2 separate regions of the Homo sapiens genome follow, and region 2 is linked to region 1. Evidence: fine-mapped expression QTL. A gene starts in region 1. The other region holds a variant in brackets. All regions are shown on one strand. Distances are between the middles of the regions.

The links.
Region 2: its variant is fine-mapped to the expression of GOLGA6L7 in adrenal gland (GTEx, PIP 0.95).

The regions. Positions count from the first base shown.
Region 1 is chr15:28,843,176-28,852,688 of GRCh38, forward strand. It overlaps GOLGA6L7 (golgin A6 family like 7), which reads right to left and starts at 5,469. Exons shown (of 9, transcript NM_001365371.2): 1 at 5,324-5,469; 2 at 3,889-4,017; 3 at 3,045-3,074; 4 at 2,725-2,775; 5 at 2,543-2,636; 6 at 2,354-2,460; 7 at 1,030-1,088; 8 at 559-700; 9 at 1-265. The coding sequence starts at 5,374. It also overlaps the pseudogene PDCD6IPP2. RefSeq lists an enhancer at 1,305-1,851 and a silencer at 5,603-5,737.
Region 2 is chr15:28,785,376-28,794,888 of GRCh38, forward strand. It overlaps the pseudogene LOC100289656 and the pseudogene PDCD6IPP2. Among named protein-coding and RNA genes, the nearest start is that of GOLGA6L7, 59 kb to the right of the region's middle. The variant A/AG (reference allele first, on the strand shown) is at 4,390.

The DNA.
Region 1 (9,513 bases):
CCTGCTTCCGCATCTGCTCCTCCTGCTTCCGCATCTGCTCCTCCTGCTTCCGCATCTGCTCCTCCTGCTTCCGCATCTGCTCCTCCTGCTCCTGCATCTGCTGCTCCTGCTCCCGCAGCTCCTTCTCCTGGTCCCGCAGCCTCTGCTCCTGTCTCCACATCTTCTCCTCGTGCTTCCGTAGCTTCTCCTGATCCCGTAGCTCCTCCTGATCCCGTAGCTCCTCCTCCTGCCTCCACATCTTCTCCTGCAAAGTGTTGGTTTGAACCTCAAAAGGAAATAGAGTCATAAGCTAGGTATATAAATGTAATCTATAAAATAACGGTTTTCGTCTATGATTCTTTAAAAAGAAATTTTAAGCCGTAACCCTGAGGTTCTGATTTCCCAGGCATGGTCCCAATTTGTAGATTTTTAGCACACTCTAGAGGATTCTGTGGTGGGACCAGAACAAGGACCCAAATTTTCCAGCTCTTGGCTGGAGCCTCCCCACACCCTGCATGATCCCTAGACCATGTCCCAGCCGGATGCGGCTCCCACACCCCCGGGGCTGCCGCCGCTCACCTGTGGCAGCGGGATTTTGTCCGTCTCCAGTTTCCTTTTTAGCTCCTTGATGTGGAGCTGGATCTCAGACTTTTCAGTTTCTACCAGTCGAAGTTTTTCTTGTAGTTCGGCATTTTTCTCCTTCAGCTCCTTATTGGTTATGCTATGGCCGGAGGCAGTAGAGAAAGGAATGAACGAAGAACAGAAAGGACCGCTTTGGTGATCGACCCTCTACCCTCGCCCCACAACCACAGAACCGTGGCACTGGAAGGGACCCCAGGAATTAAAAGTCCCAGGTGGCAGGCCAGAGAGAAGACATGAGTTGCCTGAGGCTACCCCATGAGTCAGTGGCACAGCCGGCACTGGAGCTTCCCTGCACACACATGTAAACCTGTATGACCCCCTACCATGCTCACCTGTACCCCCCACCTCCCAGCACACCACCCACGCTAAGGGCTCTCAGACCTCCCATCCCCCCCTCCCCTATCCTACATGTTCCTGAACAGCTCCAGACTCATGGCTTCCCTCTCCTTTGTTAACTCCTTGATGTACTGCAAACAGAGAAAGGTCAAGTCAGGATACAGCAGGCAGAGGAGCAGCTGGACGACCAGTAACGACAGCTACACTGATACTCCACAGTAACACTTGCTCCTCTCCGTCACACCCGACATGTTCTCAAGGCGTTTCCAAACCCGTGGTGTCATTTGTTTTTCTTTTCTTTTTTTTTTTTTTTTTGAGATGGAGTTTCGCTCTTGTTGCCCAGGCTGGAGTGCAATGGCGCGATCTCACCCCACCGCAACCTCCGCCTCCCGGCTTCAAGCGATTCTTCTGCCTCAGCCTCCTAAGTAGCTGGGATTACAGGCATGTGCCACTGCACCTGGCTCTCACTTGTTTTTCGGAGAACTCAGTAAGGGTGGAAGGCACAGAGAAAGAGACTGAATTGATAGCTGGCTAACAGGGGCCCAGAGCGATCAGATAATATTGTTATTGCTATTACTGTTATTATTACCACTGTTGGAACCTTTCTTGAGTGCTTCACCAGGCACTATGCTAACAATCCCATTTAATCCTCACAGCCACCACAGGAGACAGTTATCATTATCACCTCTATTGTGTAGATGAAAAACATGGGGTATTAAAGGTTAAGTGCTTGCCTAAGATCACTTAGAGCTGGGATTTCAACACCCAGGTATATCTGATTCTCTAAGCCCATTCTTTTGGTTGGGGGTAGGGGCACAGATAAGGAGGAGGAAATTAATCCTTTGTTGATTTTTGAAAGAATGATACATTGGCATAGTCCAAACCTCAGAAGGTACAGAAGGGAAATATCTTCCCCCAACACTGTTCCTCTCTCCTGAGTTTTTTATGAATCCTTACAAACATGTTTTATGTATATTACCATAATACGTACGTACACACACACACACACACACACACACACACACACACACACGTACATGTGTTCCCTCTCTCTACACAAATGGTAACATACTAAAGATACTCTTCTGTACCTTCATGGTACAAGTACCCTCAACTCCGCCTAGGATTTGACCAAGGCCACAGCCAAGTATGGGTGGGGTGGGCACTTGGCCTCCGAGCTCTGTGTCCAGTGCTCGCTCCCCACAGCGCCCCGCAACTCACCCACAGCAGCTGACTCAGCCCCAACCTGCCTCTAACAACCACGCACAAAAGCAGCAAGAAATGGCCCATGCTGTCTTCTGGGCAGGACACTGCATCCTGCAGAAGGGACCTTTAGGCTCATTCCTCCATCTGCGAAGCTGGGCTCCCAGGGGACCGGGTAGGTGGTTGGACTCACCTTGTCCGCCCTCTCGTGCTCTGCGGACATAGCAGAGAGAGCCCGCTGTAACTCTCCTGCAAAGTGCCAGGAATGATGCAGGCGGGCTGCCAGATCCTTGGAATCTTCTGGAATGAGAGAGGTTGAGCTGCAGCCCAAAGGCCTGTGAAAGTGCCAGGTTGAAGGATGACGGGGTGCCCAGATTCCCACCTTCAAATTTCCTGGCAGCATCCTGGCTGTCATGGAGCGCTGTCTCCAGTTCAGTTTTCTGACACATAAGGATTCGTATGGTATGATCCTGGGCCTTTGGGAGACAAGAAAAGCAAGTGCTGAAAGAGAAGCAAAGAAACCTTCTCCAGAGGACAGGAGGGAACTTCACACCCTCCACTCACCTCTAGCTGCCTCCTTAGGGCTTGCTGATGTTGGTGGCTTGCCTTATTTTCCTATAGAAAAGAAGAGGAAGACAGAGCTCTTACTAGAGGGAGGCAGAGATGGCACAGCAAGAGACATGCCCCCAGAATGGCCCCACTGTCCCAGGACAGGCCCACCCATGGGACCAGGTTATCAGGGACCCTGTGGGGATGGGGTGGAAGCTGGGAGGTGAGCCTTCCTCCCCAAGCTGGGAGTAGGCGAGACGAGACTGGGGCCTCTACATCTGAGTGCCCCCCAAACCCAGCGGTCATGTCGTGAGCAAAGAAAGAAACCATGTTACCTCTTTCAGCTGAGCTCGGTTCTGTTGTTTCTGTGGGGAGAGTCAAAGGAAGGTGACTGAGGGTGGTCCCTCGACTCTATTCCCCAGGCCAGGAAGCGGTAGGCAGGGGTCAGGAATGGATTTTAAGGGCAAAGTTCTCAGACCCAATGGGAACACAAACTGGTCAACTTTCCTTAACGCCCAAAGAAAAAGGATTTGGGTCTTTGTTGGCTTTTGCCCACAGCCACAGAACTGAAAGTCTGAAACTAGATTCTCTGGAAAAGACAGTAACATAAACCTTCCGACATAAGAGTGTGAGAAAAGCCCACCCTTCTGCCAGCTTGTGATGGAGAAAGATGTGTTCATTCAACAAGCATTGAGCAAGCACATAGGGGCCGGGGACGGTTCTTCACTGCTGGGATATAGGACGGAAAAGGCAGACAGGAGCCCTTGGCCCCAAGGTTTCCATTCTAGTGAATCTTTAAATCTCAGACTCTCAGAGCAAACAGAACCTCTGATACTCTAACTCTACCTCCTCAGGAAACGGAAGCCCAAAGAGGAGGGGAGCTTACAGCAGGCCCTGGACTAGGGATTAACACAAAAACAACAGCAACAAATCTGATTTAAGCTTCACACATGTAAGTAAAACATTACCATCCCCATTTTACAGATGTGAAAAGAGAGGCCCAAAGAGCTCGAGCAATTTTCCCTAAACCGTGTCCCTCGCAGTTGGAGAGAGAAGTAGGACTCAAACCCAGAATTCTTAGCCAGTACCCAGCAGTTCTTCCTTCCACAATCTTAACAGTTACCCTCGACCTCCCCCTTGTGCCCCTTGTCCTCAGGAGACCGGCCAGCCAAGACTCACATCCTCAGGCGAGTGGCAGCCCCCCGAAGTGGTTGTCTCAGGGTTAGCGCCATGATTTATTTTCTTCTTTTTGGTGTCGGTTGCTCCGGTACCAACACCAGCACTGTTCCACTGATGATAGTCTGTAAACTGTGGAAAAGAGGAGCAGTGATACTCATGAGAACTACAAGCTCCTACAGTCACTTTACAGTTTATACAAAATACTCTCATAGACGATCTGACTTAATGCCACCAACGACTGTACGAGGTGTTGTCGCAATCACTTAGTGACTGAGAGGGATTGATACCATGGCTAAAAGAAAGGCAATAATGGAACTGAAACTCAGTCTTCTGACTCTGAGCTCTGGGGTGTTGCCACAAATCAGCAGCTGCCAGAGACCAAAACCAGAGGCAGAGGTAGAAAAGTAAAAAGTAGGCAGGAAGGTGTACACTGTGTGGTTTACAGTCGTACATCCTCTTAGAGTCATGTATCCTCAGGGCAGAAGGCAGCCTTTCTGTTAAATGTGGGAATTAAACAGAAAGAGGACAACCCAAGCTGCATTTCAGAGAGAAGTCTTGTATACTCTTTGAAATCTATGTGACTATCATCCCTAAGAACATTAATGTTTTGTGTCTCCCACGAGAATCAAGGAAAACTGATGCTTCAGAAAGATGCCCCATATGTATCCTGTGGCACTCAAAGTACCCCAGGTTGAGATGAGATGAGGAAGATTCAAGTTGTCAAGTCCAGTTTCCCAAGATCTCTTGCACAGAAGATGAGCAAATCTCACTTCAAAGATCACTGACTGATGGGCACTCTGGTCCCAGAACCATGGAGAATTCAAATATGAAGTGGAGAACTTAGAAAAAACTGTTAAAGTCTCTCTGGAGAGTAGAAGCCTGGGAGAAAACCAAACCAAACCCATTATCCCATCAGTGCTGTGCCCAAGTTGCCTCTTTGAGATTGGCATGGGGTCACAGGGTTGGGACCCAGGTACTTGGAGACGTGAGCCCAAAGAGCCCAGGGAAGTCAGGCTTGGGGCAGCGGTAGGTGAGGGCCGAGTATGGAGTGGGGAGCCCCAGGAGTCACCTGCCCAAAGTCACCCTGGGGTGACTGGTGAGGGCAGGTGCTGGGGCATCCGGTTCCTTGGGAACGTGAGCCCGAAGGGCCCAGGGAGATCCATTTTTGGACAATAGGAGGTGAGGGCAGAGTACAAAGCAGGGAGCCCCACGAGTCACCGGCTGAAAGTCACCCTGGGGTGACCGGTGAGGGCAGGGGCAGGACTGCTGAGGGGTTGGGGCTGACACAAGATTTTGGTTGGGGGAGCCCAGAGGCACTGGGGGGGGCCCGGCCCTGCGTGCCTCTGGAGTGACACGGATTCTGGCAGCTGTTCTGCCATCAGAGGGGACCTGGGGCTGGGTTGGGGTTGGGGTGCTGCAATCCGATGCGTTTTACCTTTTTCTTGGTCCCAGCCAATTTTCTTTGTTGGGTTTTTTCGGACATCATGGGGTGGGGAGGGTGGTGGGGTTGGGGTCACATTGGCGTGATCCAGGCGAGGACAGTGATATGCCTCCAGTCACGTACCACACAGCTATGTGACTGAGCCACAGGAGGCGTCACCGGGGCTGCACTAGAATGCGGAAAAGGGGCGTGGCCTTAATGCTCCAAGCCCATTGGTCAATGAGAAAGATGAAAGGGAAAGGAGGCGGGGCCAGGCAGCTGCGGGTCATGAAGGTCCTGTGATGTCACAAGGAAAGCCTCCCATGGAACTGCTGTCCCCGCCCACTCTGGGAGAGGGGCGGGGCTGGCTTTCACTTACTTTTTTTTTTTTTTACATATATAACTTTTTATTATAATTTAAGGTATAGTCGATAATATAATGTTTTTTTTTGTTTTGTTTTGTTTTGTTTTTTTTAATTGATCATTGGGTGTTTCTCGCAGAGGGGGATTTGGCAGGGTCATAGGACAATAGTGGAGGGAAGGTCAGCAGATAAACAAGTGAACAAAGGTCTCTGGTTTTCCTAGGCAGAGGACCCTACGGCCTTCTGCAGTGTTTGTGTCCCGGGGTACTTGAGATTAGAGAGTGGTGATGACTTTTAACGAGCATGCTGCCTTCAAACATCTGTTTAACAAAGCACATCTTGCACCGCCCTTAATCCATTTAACCCTGAGTGGACACAGCACATGTTTCAGAGAGCACAGGGTTGGGGGTAAGGTCACAGATCAACAGGATCCCAAGGCAGAATAATTTTTCTTAGTACAGAACAAAATGAGAAGTCTCCCATGTCTACCTCCCTCTACACAGACACGGCAACCATCCAACCTCTCAATCTTTTCCCCACCTTTCCCCCCTTTCTATTCTACAAAACCGCCATTGTCATCATGGCCCATTCTCAATGAGCTGCTGGGCACACCTCCCAGACGGGGTGGCGGCCAGGCAGAGGGGCTCCTCACTTCCCAGTAGGGGCAGCCGGGCAGAGGCGCCCCTCACCTCCCGGACGGGGCGACTGGCTGGGCGGGGGGCTGACCCCCCCACCTCCCTCCCGGACGGGGTGGCTGGCCGGGCAGAGGGGCTCCTCACTTCCCAGTAGGGGCGGCCGGGCAGAGGCGCCCCTCACCTCCCGGACGGGGCGGCTGGCCAGGCGGGGGGCTGACCCCCCCACCTCCCTCCCGGACGGGGCGGCTGGCCGGGCGGGGGTTGACCCCCACCTCCCTCCCGGACGGGGTGGCTGCCGGGCGGAGACGCTCCTCACTTCCCAGACGGGGTGGCTGCCGGGCGGAGGGGCTCCTCACTTCTCTGACGGGGCGGCTGCCGGGTGGAGGGGCTCCTCACTTCTCAGATGGGGCGGTTGCCAGGCGGAGGGTCTCCTCACTTCTCAGACGGGGCGGCCGGGCAGAGACGCTCCTCACCTTCCAGGCGGGGTCGCGGCCGGGTAGAGGCGCTCCTCACATCCCAGACGGGGTGGCGGGGCAGAGGCGCTCCCCACATCTCAGACGATGGGCGGCCGGGCAGAGGCGCTCCTCACTTCCTAGATGGGATGGCGGCCGGGAAGAGGCGCTCCTCATTTTCCAGACTGGGCAGCCAGGCAGAGGGGCTCCTCACATCCCAGACGATGGGCAGCCAGGCAGAGACGCTCCTCACTTCCCAGACGATGGGCGGCCAGGCAGAGACGCTCCTCACTTCCCAGACGGGGTGGCAGCCGGGCAGAGGCTGCAATCTCGGCACTTTGGGGGGCCAAGGCAGGCGGCTGGGAGGTGGAGGTTGTAGCGAGCCGAGATCACGCCACTGCACTCCAGCCTGGGCACCATTGAGCGCTGAGTGAACCAGACTCCGTCTGCAATCCCGGCACCTCGGGAGGCCGAGGCTGGCAGATCACTCGCGGTTAGGAGCTGGAGACCAGCCCGGCCAACACAGCGAAACCCCGTCTCCACCAAAAAAATACGAAAACCAGTCAGGCGTGGCGGCGCGCGCCTGCAATCGCAGGCACTCGGCAGGCTGAGGCAGGAGAATCAGGCAGGGAGGTTGCAGTGAGCCGAGATGGCAGCAGTACAGTCCAGCTTCGGCACAGCATCAGAGGGAGACCGTGGAAAGAGAGGGAGAGGGAGACCGTGGGGAGAGGGAGAGGGAGAGGGAGACCGTGGGGAGAGGGAGAGGGAGACCGTGGGGAGAGGGAGAGGGAGAGGGAGAGGGAGAGGGACTCACTTTCTAAACTTTAAAACTTTATCACCTTAGTTGAGGTACAAATCCTGTTGTAATGGAAAATTTACAGCGTGCTTAATGATTAGTAAAGCAGATTATATTATCCAACATTCCAATAAGATAAAATAATCACAGTGATTTCTCTTTTTTGGAAAAAGTTTCTCTTATTCTCCTACATTATTGTTAAGTTTTTTTTTTTTTTAAACTAGAGATATGTCTAATATATTTTAAAACACAAAGCTTTTGAGGTGGGTGTGGTGGCTCATGCCTGTCATCCCAGCACATTGGTAGGCTGAGATGGGCATATCACCTGAGATCAGGAGTCAAGACCAAAATTTTAGTATTTTAGTGTGTATTTTAGTATTTATTTTAGTATTTAATACATCATTTAGGGCTACATGTAGCCACAGAAAGAATAAATCTGATTCAGTGACTTAAAGAAATATAGATTTCATTTTTGTCACTTAAAACGTGCAGAGGAAGGCAGTCCAGGGTTCTTTTCAGTTTCCTGATACTTCCTTAGCCTGGTTTCTATTCTTGTGGTCACAATGTGGCTGCTGTTTTTCCAGGCCTTGGATTGCCTTCCAAGGAGGGAAAGATGAAAGGTCAAAAGGCTGAGTTTGTCTCTTTTTAGCTGAAAAACACAGATTTCTCAAAAGTTGTAAAATTATACTGCAATTCAATTTTCATCCTTTTTTTTTTTTTTTTTTTTGAAACGCAGTCTTGCTCTGTTGCCAGGCTGGAGTGCAGTGGCACAATCTCGGCTCACTGTCATAATGTCCGCCTCCATGGTTCAAGTGATTCTCCTACCTCAGCCTCCCTAATAGCTAGGAATACAGGCGCATGACACCACGCCCGACTCATTTCTATTTGTATTTTTAGTAGAGACGAGATTTCACCATGTTGGCCAGGCTGGTTTTGAACTCCAGACCTTGTGATCCGCCCACCTCTGCCTCCCAAAGTGCTGGAATTAGAGGCATGAGCCACTGCGCCTGGCCTGCAATTTTCATCTTTTGGCTGCAAATAAGTTATGTCACTATTCTCAGCTGGGGGAGTGTTTAACTCACATGTTGCTTCCTCTCTGTTACACAGGTTTTAAGATTTATGAATAGGTACTGAATTGTATCAATTGCTTTTTTCTTTCTTGATTGAGCAGTGTTTTTTCTTATCTTTTTATGTTGATAAGGTAACTTAACAGTGATTGGCTTTTGAATGTTGAACATTGCATTTTGGAATTAAATCAACTTTGTTGTGATAAATGATTAATACCATATTATATATGGTTGAGATGGGTTTGCTCCTAGTTCATTTGGTAGTTTTGTACTTACGTTCACAAGAGAAAGTGGAGTCTAAGTTTTTCTGTGTGTTTTTTTTTTTTTTTTTTTTTTTTTTGCCACGGAGTCTCGCCCTGTTGTCCAGGCTGGAATGCAGTGGCATGATCTCGGCTCATTGCAAGCTCCGCCTTCCGGGTTCACGCCATTCTCCTGCTTCAGCCTCCCGAGTAGTTGGGACTATAGGCGCCCACCACCACCCCTGGCTAATTTATTGTATTTTTTTAGTAGAGACGGGGTTTCACCGTGTTAGCCAGGATGGTCTCGATCTCCTGACCTCGTGATCCACCCGCCTCAGCCTCCCAAAGTGCTGGGATTACAGGCGTGAGCCACTGCACCCAGACTTGTGAGGTTTTAATATGAAGTATTAAAGCTATGCTGGTTAGACAATTTGAGAAATGTTTCTTCTCCTATTTCTGACAGAGTTTATGTAAGATGTGTGCTATTTCTTCCTTAAGCATTTGGAAAGAATTCACTTATTAAGCCATGTGAGACTGTAGTTTTCTTTATAAGGTGTTTAATTACAGGTTCAATTACATATATATGAATATTCATTTCGGTAACCTGTGTTTGCTGAATCAATTTGTTCATTTTATCTAAAATTTCAAAGTTGT
Region 2 (9,513 bases), 58 kb before region 1:
CTAAACTTTATATAGCCACGACCCTCTTGCAGCACTGCTCTAAGCCTTTTCCTGCTCTGAAATAGCTACTATTGTTACCTCCATTGTAGAGAATACAGATGCCAGAGGTTGTTGTGGAAGGACCATGGAAACTGACTAGGAAATTGACTTGTAAGTTTAGGACTTAAAGGTTCTTCCTGTTTTGCTCCTTACATTGCCACATTTTAGTTAACATACCTCCTAAAATACTGGTCCTTTCTATATTTGGAGGGACTCGTCTTGCAGTTTGAAGTTTTTTCTTGCACTAAGCATTTGGTCAGAAGATCATGTGCGTTTTATGTCAGTTTAAGTTTAGACATTGTTCAGTAAGGAATGTAAATATGAGCAAACAGTTACCTGATTAAATAGAAAACCTAGAAGAAAAATCACCTATGAGAAAGTCAAGAAAATGTGAACTCTGGATTTGTGGCTATTTTCAGAATATTAATTTTTTTGGTATTTAATGGCATTGTGAATATATTTATTTTTAAAAATTCCTTGTCTTCTGCAGATACATATACGGTAATTAAAAAATGATATGATGTATAGATTTTACTTCAAAATAATTCAGAGGAAGAAGGAATGCATATAAATGAAGTGGGAATATAAATGAAACAAAACTGGCTGTGGCCAGGTGTGGTGGCTCACGCCTGTAATCCCAGCACTTTGGGAGACTGAGGCAGGTGGATCACCTGAGGTCAGGAGTTCAAGACCAGCCTGGCCAACGTGGTGAAACATCATCTCTACTAAAAATACAACAGTTAGCCGGATGTGGTGCCGGGTGCCTGTAATCCCAGCTACTTGGGAGGCTGAGGCAGGAGAATCGCTTGAACCTGAGAGGCAGAATTTGCAGTGAGCCAAGATCATGACACTGCACTCCAGCCTGGGCGACCACAGCAAAATCCCACCTTTAAAAACAAACAACAAAAAACCAACAAAAACAAAAAACTGTCCATGCCATGAATGAAAAATTGTTGATGATGTGTATATGTAGGGCAGTTACATTATTTTTCTCAACTTTTTTTACATCTGAAACTTTTTAATGAACACATGCACACGTCCCTTGATAACTGGGGCTGCTTCCCCATTACTCTCTCAATAGCCCTTCTGATTTTCACTTCATCTTCATTCTTAGAGACTCTGGATTTTTTATTTTTTTTGGCAAGTTCAAGTATGTCTTGATCTATGCAAGGACTAGCCAGCATGTCTACCTACTCAGCCATATTATCAGAAACAGAAAAAGTGTCCAGATTCTTGTCTTTTCCTGTTAAGATTTTTTAAATTCCAAGAACAGTCACCTTCTACCAGACACTCTGATGTTGGAAGACAAAGCATATTTCGTAAGTGGCATGATTTCTGTGCTCAAGTTTAGAACAAAGCCACAGATTTCAACATCTCAAAAATAACTTACTGGACTCACCAAATTTAGAAAGATGGAGATTATTTTAAAAAAAGAAAACCTTAATTTACTATGTGACCTCTAAGTATCTCAGCTGAAAATTGTAAAGATAGGTAAATCAAAAGATGCAGATAATCATGCACTTAATGAAGCGCTAAATCAAAGTATTTTTGGCATATGTGAGTTTCATTTTATCACATTTTTTACTGGTACTATAGCTATTTGCAAGTACATATAGAACTACAGTGTTACATATAAACTACCAAAAAGCAACTTTTTAAAAAAATTTTATTATTCTTATACTTTAAGTTTTAGGGTAGATGTGCACAAAGTACAGGTTAGTTCCATATGTATACATGTGCCATGTTGGTGTGCTGCACCCATTCACTTGTCATTTAGCATTAGGTATACCTCCTAATGCTATCCCTCCCCCTCCCCCCACCCCACAACAGTCCCCGGTGTGTGATGTTCCCCTTCCTGTGTCTATGTGTTCTCATTCTTCAATTCCCACCTATGAGTGAGAACATGCGGTGTTTGTTTTTTTGTCCTTGCGATAGTTTGCTGAGAATGATGGTTTCCAGTTTCATCCATGTCCCTACAAAGGACGTGAACTCATCATTTTTTTATGGCTGCATAGCATTCGTTGGTGTATATATGCCACCTTTTCTTAATCCAGTCTATCATTGTTAGACATTTGGGTTGGTTCCAAGTCTTTGCTATTGTGAATAATGCCGCAATAAACATATGTGTGCATGTGTCTTTATAGCAGCATGATTTATAGTCCTTTGGGTATATACCCAGTAATGGGATGGCTGGGTCAAATGGTATTTCTAGTTCTAGATCCCTGAGGATCTAGACACACTGACTTCCACAGTGGTTGAACTAGTTTACAGTCCCACCAACAGTGTAAAAGTGTTCCTATTTCTCCACATCCTCTCCAGCACCTGTTGTTTCCTGACTTTTTAATGATCGCCATTCTAACTGGTGTGAGATGGTATCTCATTGTGGTTTTGATTTGCATTTCTCTGATGGCCAGTGATGATGAGCATTTCTTCATGTGCTTTTTGGCTGCATAAATGTCTTCTTTTGAGAAGTGTCTGTTCATATCCTTTGCCCACTTTTTGATGGGGTTGCTTGTATTTTTCTTGTAAATTTGTTGGAGTTCATTGTAGATTCTGGATATTAGTCCTTTGTGAGATGAGTAGGTTGCGAAAATTTTCTCCCATTTTGTCAAAAAACAGCTTTTTAAGAAATGAGACTAATCTAGCAACTTTATTGAGAGGACGTGAAGTGTTTGGTTAGGAATGGTGCAATTGGTGGTGGTTGTGGACATGTGAGATGTAAGATGCCTCAACTTCCAATGTTGTTCAGAAGCAATCCAGCTTTCTGAATTATTCTTATGAATTCTGGATTTGAAACAGTAACTTCCCAAATGGCAGGGGCTTTCAGCAGAGAGGAACCTGGAGGGACCCTGTCCCTGACACCTTCTGGGTTGTTAGCTCCAGATCAAAAGAACTCCTGATTTGGAAAAAGCTTCTTGAAAAGAAGAGGGGAGGTGACCTTGGTGAAGCCTCTGGGGACATGAGCTATTTTTAGGGCTTTTGGCAGGAAAAGAGCTTTTGAAAACGGAGATAAGGCATGGTATTAAAAAGGCTTACATTGGAGAAAGAAATCATAAAACTCCATACAGTTAGGGCAATAGTTTTGTTTTTTACTAGGACAGCATCAGTTTATTGGAGTATTTATATAACATAAGCAAGGTCTCTTGATATTTTAACAATTAACAACTGGATTTTATTTTCTACTATAGGTGCAGTTTATCATTCTGAATCCAAAGCCAAGGAATATAAACATGTATGCAAACGAGCTTGTCAGAGAGTATCAACGCAATGTGTATCATCTATGCTTTTCAGTTTTGAACATAAAGCAGTGGCTCTGAGCGCGACTCGGAGGGCGACGCCGCGGCCGCAGCCATGGGTGCTGGGCCTGCAGGGGCGCGGGGGGGAGGGCGACGCTAGGACCTGCGGGGCCGGGCGGGAGAGAGGGCTGCCGGGACCGGCCCTAGACACTGAGCCGCGGTGGGATCCCCGCCGGCTCTGCGAGGCCCTGCGAGCGCCAGGGAGGCGCCTCGAGGGAGCCGGGCAGCCGCCGGCCACTTCAGGGGGGCCCGCCACTTCAGGGCGGTCGAAAGAGCCTTGGGGGCACATCTCGGGGTGCGGTGACCCGCCCGGCGCATTTCGGGGGTCGGGGCGCATTTGCCAGGGGACATCTGGAGCCCGGCCCTGCTTCTGTCGGGCTCCAGGGTACCCCTGGATGGCTGCGCTGTGCCCTCGCCGGCGGCCCGGGCGCCACAGCGGCTGAGTTCGCCGGGATCGCCGGGCCGCCGCCGCCCTTGCCACCGGCTGCATGCTCGGCGCCCGGGTCGCGGCCCACCTGGACGCACTGGGCCCCCTGGTCCCCTACGTGCCGCCGCCGCTGCTGCCCTCTATGTTCTACGTGGGCCTGTTCTTCGTCAATGTGCTGATCCTGTACTACGCCTTCCTCATGGAGTACATCGTCCTCAACGTGGGCCTCGTCTTCCTGTTCGAGGACATGGACCAGGCGCTCGTGGACCTCGGCGTGCTCTCCGACCCCGGCTCGGGCCTTTACGATGCTGACTCGGAGCTCGACGTCTTTGATGGGTACTTGGAGTAGGGTCTCGACTGCCGTTCCCCTCTTCCCTCCACGATCCGCAACCCACGCCCTGGACCAGCCGCCCAGATCATGGCGCCGCAGCAGCTGGTTGGGGGCACCATCTGGACGGGGATGGTTCCCCAGGAGGAGACCCTCCCCTGCCTCCGAGGCCTGCCTGCTACCCTCAAAAGCTTCGTGCCAACAGAGAGGTTCCTGTTTGGACCCAGGAGAGTGGAAGAGAGATTGGGACTGAGTGCTGAGATTGGGAAGGCACCTGCTCCCACAGAAGGGGGAACGCA[A/AG]GGGGCGTCCCAAGACCTCATCTGCCTGCAGCGTCACACCGATGGCCTGGCCTCGGCTTCTCATTATTTGCAACTGCCATGGATGTTTACAGGAACCCAGCCAGAGTTTGCCTCCCTGCACTTCATCCCAGAGCGCACCTGCTTCCTCCACTTCACCTTCGGAGAGGACACTTCAAACTGCGGACACACGCAAAAGCAACTCCCAGCTCTGTTTGATGTGAGTTGAGCCTTCAGGCCAGCTGGGTTTAGCCCGAGGCTGGTCTTAGATGCAGCGACTGTTTCAGGGAGTGACTCAGAATAAAAAGAAGCTGAGGAAGCTGTTGGGGGGCTGAGGATGAGATTCTCGCTTCTTCATTTCAGGTTACTCGTTCCTCAGCAAGTTGGCAAAACAGATATCATGCTGGTGAGTGCCACGTTACTCCCCTGGCTGCAAATGCTTTTCTGAAAGTATGAGTGTCGTGCCTACTTAATTCTGATAAACCTGTTTAAGCAATACTTAGGAGGCTGACTTCTTTGGATTAAAAAAATGTATGCAACTCCAAAAAAAAAAAAAAAAAAAAGAAATTCAACATTTAAAAGTTTCATTTCTAGGGCAGTCTTCCGGTTTGGACTACAAAATTATTTTGCTTGTTTTTGTAGGGGATCGTTTTGTGTTGTTTTGTGTCTTTCTCCACATGATGCTTAGCTCTTTCCCCACGTCCCAGATTAAAGTCTGTATTTTTGTAATTGTGGGCACACAATCATATCTCTTTTAATCTTTGCAACGATGTTGAACTTCTGTAGACAGAAGGATAGAGAAAACAGCTTGAAGGCAGTCAGTGTGTTTTTCCATGAAGGGAAAAAAATAAATAAAAAAATTAAAATGGGTGCTTTTTTAAGAGAGATTGTCCTATACTTTTTCATTCTGTTTTTCATCACGTAGTTTGTATCATAGCAAGTTCATTGTCATTCCAGAGTTCAGCTTTGCCCTTGTACTCAGTTGTGCTTTTTTCCCATTGGTTTTTGAGGTTTTGCTAAACTGTTGAATATTTAATGTGGGGACAGGAATGGACTCAGAAGAAATGTTTTTTATTTTGATTCTTACTAGTCTTGTAGGCAAACCTTCCATTACTTTTTATGCAAATAGGATCTAGTTGAATATTGTATATCGAGTAAATATGCGTCTCTCTCTGCTCTTTTCGTTGATATTTACATAACATTAAAAAGATTATACTTTATCAGAGATTCAAGCTTTTTCTTATGAATGAAGCCCTATAAATAAGAATATTTTGTTACAGGGATTTTGTTCTTTTGAAATTTATAACAATAAAGCTAAAAGTTCTCTAAGCTGTTTTATATTTTTTCTTATTTTTCAAAGTGTGAAATTTTTCTATCATCTGAAAATAAATTTTATGTAACTATAGTCTTAGAAATTTAATACATTTGAATTGTATATTTAGCCTCTTTAATATTTCCAATGAATACACTTCTTAAAAGTTTAATTAGGAATACAGTTCTTAGTTTTTGAGCTTTCTCTTTGTTGACTAAATTGAAATGTTAATAAATCATTTATAAATGACTTTTCCTTCTCTCTCTTTTCCTCTCCTAATTTATGCTCAAGGCCAGGTGATTTTATAGACCTTTATTCTGTGTAGTTTATATTACAAAATAATATGTTACATCTTGATTTAGAATTTACATTATAGTATCCAAAATGTTTTTGTCAAATGTGTGCTTTTATCCTCAGATTCCGGCGCCCCTGTGACTCAGAGTCACTTCTTTTTAGGTATGGAGAGTATTAACGGGGAGGAGAAATGATTCGTTTGAGATTTAGTTATCTATATAAAATACGAATTGTCAGGATATTTGAACCAAACTGGGTCATACAATTTCTGTGGCTATTTTGAATAGCCTTACAATGAATTAAGCTTACTAAATTCCTTGTACTTTTCATTTAATAGCTAGATGTTATTGTTTTAATTTGAATAATATTAAGTGAGCCATATTACCAATTAACCTGAATATAAACACTTGCTTGTTTTTAATCTGAGTAGTTTATGTCTTAAAGTATGGAATGGAACTAGTGGTCAATTTTTATTAATCTAAGTGTCTCCCATACTTCTTTAAGCTTTTGGAAAGTTTGGGAAGTTGTGATTTTGCAATGAATAATCTCTCCCCTTGGTTTCATAGGCAATTGAAAAGCTGCAGGCGGGTGCTCTTGCAACTGACGCAGTCACTGCAGCACTGGTGGAACTTGAGGTATTTCTTTTCTCTGTTTTATTGAAAATACTTGTGAGTTTATCTTTATTGTTCTTAAATGACATGAAACTGTTGAGTTAGTCAACCATAAATTATATGACCAGTGTTGCCCACCAATATTAGCACAGTTATGAAGAAGCCTATGATATTGTTGTTTTCATTGGTGACTTTTCTGAGTAATATGAAAGTTGGTTAAATTCCTTCCTTTTCTTGATTTTTTTTTTTTTGTGAGATTCATGAATACAAAAGTTAGTGACTGGATACTGAAGTTTCTCATTTTCAGTAGGAAAATCCTTGAAGTTAACCCCCAAAAAGTGATGTATGTTCTGTTGTTTAAAAATAAATTCCAACTGTCTAGAAGTGCCTAAAGTAGAAGGGGAAGATTCTTCACGAACCTAACAGTTAGATATATACCCTGAAATTGTGTGCTGTGAAGTGTGCCTTGTCCCAGTGTTATGGTTAGGTTTGTCCCCAGTTTACTGTGGACATCGAATAATTGAGTGGGGAGGCTCTCACGTTTGCCATAATTTTTTATACTCTAGAGTGAGGTCCTCTCAGTTCTCTTGATTTGGACCCTTGATGAATTTGTGCAGGGGATATTGAGGTCTTCAGAAGATTGACTTGCTGCTCGAACTTGGAGAAGATAGATTTGTATCTATCAGTTGAGAGGATTATCGTGAAAAATATTTTTCTGGTTGAGAATACTCCTTAGGGAATCAAGTAAGACATGATGACGAAACAATGATGAGTTTGAGGGAGGAGATGATAGTTAAAGGCGACATTTCCAGGTTGACTGGGTTGTGGCCCTTGTATTCAGGCGCTCATACCAGGGCACGCACCCTTTCATGCCTTTCCTTGTGAAAATTGCCCAGGTGTTTACCAAAAGTCCTAGCCGTGTTTTCTGTATATTCTCATGCTTAATTGTGGACCTGAGCTTTTGATCATGCTTTGTAGATTTTAATTTCTCTTGGTAATGTCAGATTGGTCCTAATGTAGTCAAGGAAGGTGAAAGAATATGGTGAGCACCTAGTTCTATTGAATCTTACATGGGGATGTGTGATGCCCTCCTAATATGACTGATACATTTCATGCCAGCTCTACCAGTCATTAGCCATGTGTCCATGGGTGTGGCACAGTCTGTCCTTGACTCAGTTTCCCTATTTATGAGGATAATAATTCCCACTTCACAGAGTTGTGAAGATTAACTGAGTTCATATATGACTAATACAGGACAGTCTCTTAGAACAGTGTGTGGTACGTAGTAAGCACCCATAACTGTTAGCAATTATTACAGTTATGAGGTGCTTTGGAAGTGGTATGTATGAGATGAATATTTATGGTAACTATTAATGACAAGTTTTACAGCATCAAAGAAAGTTTAATTATATGTTGAGGATCAGAGGAGAAAAATGACATAAGAAAGAAGATAGATGTATTTACCACCAAATGTTACCTTTACTCAAAACAGACACACAAAGAGGGCTTCATCTAACTTAACTAATTCAATTGTTAGTTGGAAATTACTTGCATGGAATCAGCATAGGTTTGGGAAAGAAGGTTATTGAGTAGCTGGAGAATATACTAGAATGGCAACCATGAATGCAAAACTGAATAAAATTAAGTTTCTCTTTTTATCTTAGAATAACTTTAATTTTCCTAAGTCATACTTATATATCATGTTTAATATTTCATTCTATTTTCCCCTAGTGTTGAATCTGACTTTTAAGGGATTTACTTATTTATACTTAAAAATGATAAGAATACATTTTGAAATAATGAGTTTCTCCTGAGTAAGTGGACTTATAGTTTTGGATAACTTGTGTTTTTTTAAGAGTGTGGATATGAATTTAAAGGAAAAAAATTTCTTGTTCTATTATTTTTGATTGGAATAAGTCATAAGGATAATGGTAGCATAGAATTCTTCCCCAAGTGACTTTAGAGCATCCCACACCTCAACTTTTAGTTATTTTATTTTATATATATATATATTTTTGAGATGGATTCTCACTCTGTAGCCCAAGCTGGAGTGCAGTGGTGCGATCTTGGCTCACTGCAACCTCTGCCTCCCAGGCTGAAGTGATTCTTGTGCCTCAGCTTCCCATGTAGCTGGGACTACAGGCATGCACCACCACACCCAGCTAATTTTTGTATTTTTTTTTTTTTTTAGTAGAGATGGGGTTTCACCATGTTGACCAGGGTGGTCTTGAACTCCTGAGCTCAGGTGATCCACCTACCTCGGCCTCCCAAAGTGCTGCGATTACAGGTGAGAGCCACTGTGCCTGGCCTCAACTTTTGATTATTAAATTTGTGGAAGAATTTCAATTATCTTTAACAATTAACTTTTCTATGGACTCTTTGATTGAAATACATGTTAATAGTTTAAGGTTAAGCTTACACTAACAGGAAGAATTTTCCTAAATCTTAAGAATTATGTTGGAAATCATGCTTATACTGCCCCCTGCAGTTTCTCTCACCTTGAATAATTGTGATTCATTACCTTAAAACAGGATAGGTTTTCAGATGGACTTCAGTTGGGGAAGTATTGTAATAGCTTGGGTCAATGGAAAGACGTAAGAAGATTGGATTCTAATATTTTTGTACTTAGAAAAATATAAGTAGCAGTATTGAGTCCTTTCAGAATACTGAAAAGTGCTGAGAAAAATTCTGGAGAGCCTTATTAATAATGCATTATGTTTAATTTGAGAATAAATACTTATCTTAGTTTTGGTCAGTCTATTCAGTTAAGTCATGTCTGGATTATTGAACAGATGCAAACAGTCATTGTTCTCTTCTCTTTAGACTTTGGGATATACTTTTTGATTTAAAAAATGATGTTCTTGCCACTGAGCTTAAGGAAACAATACATAAACATATTTTTAAAACTTG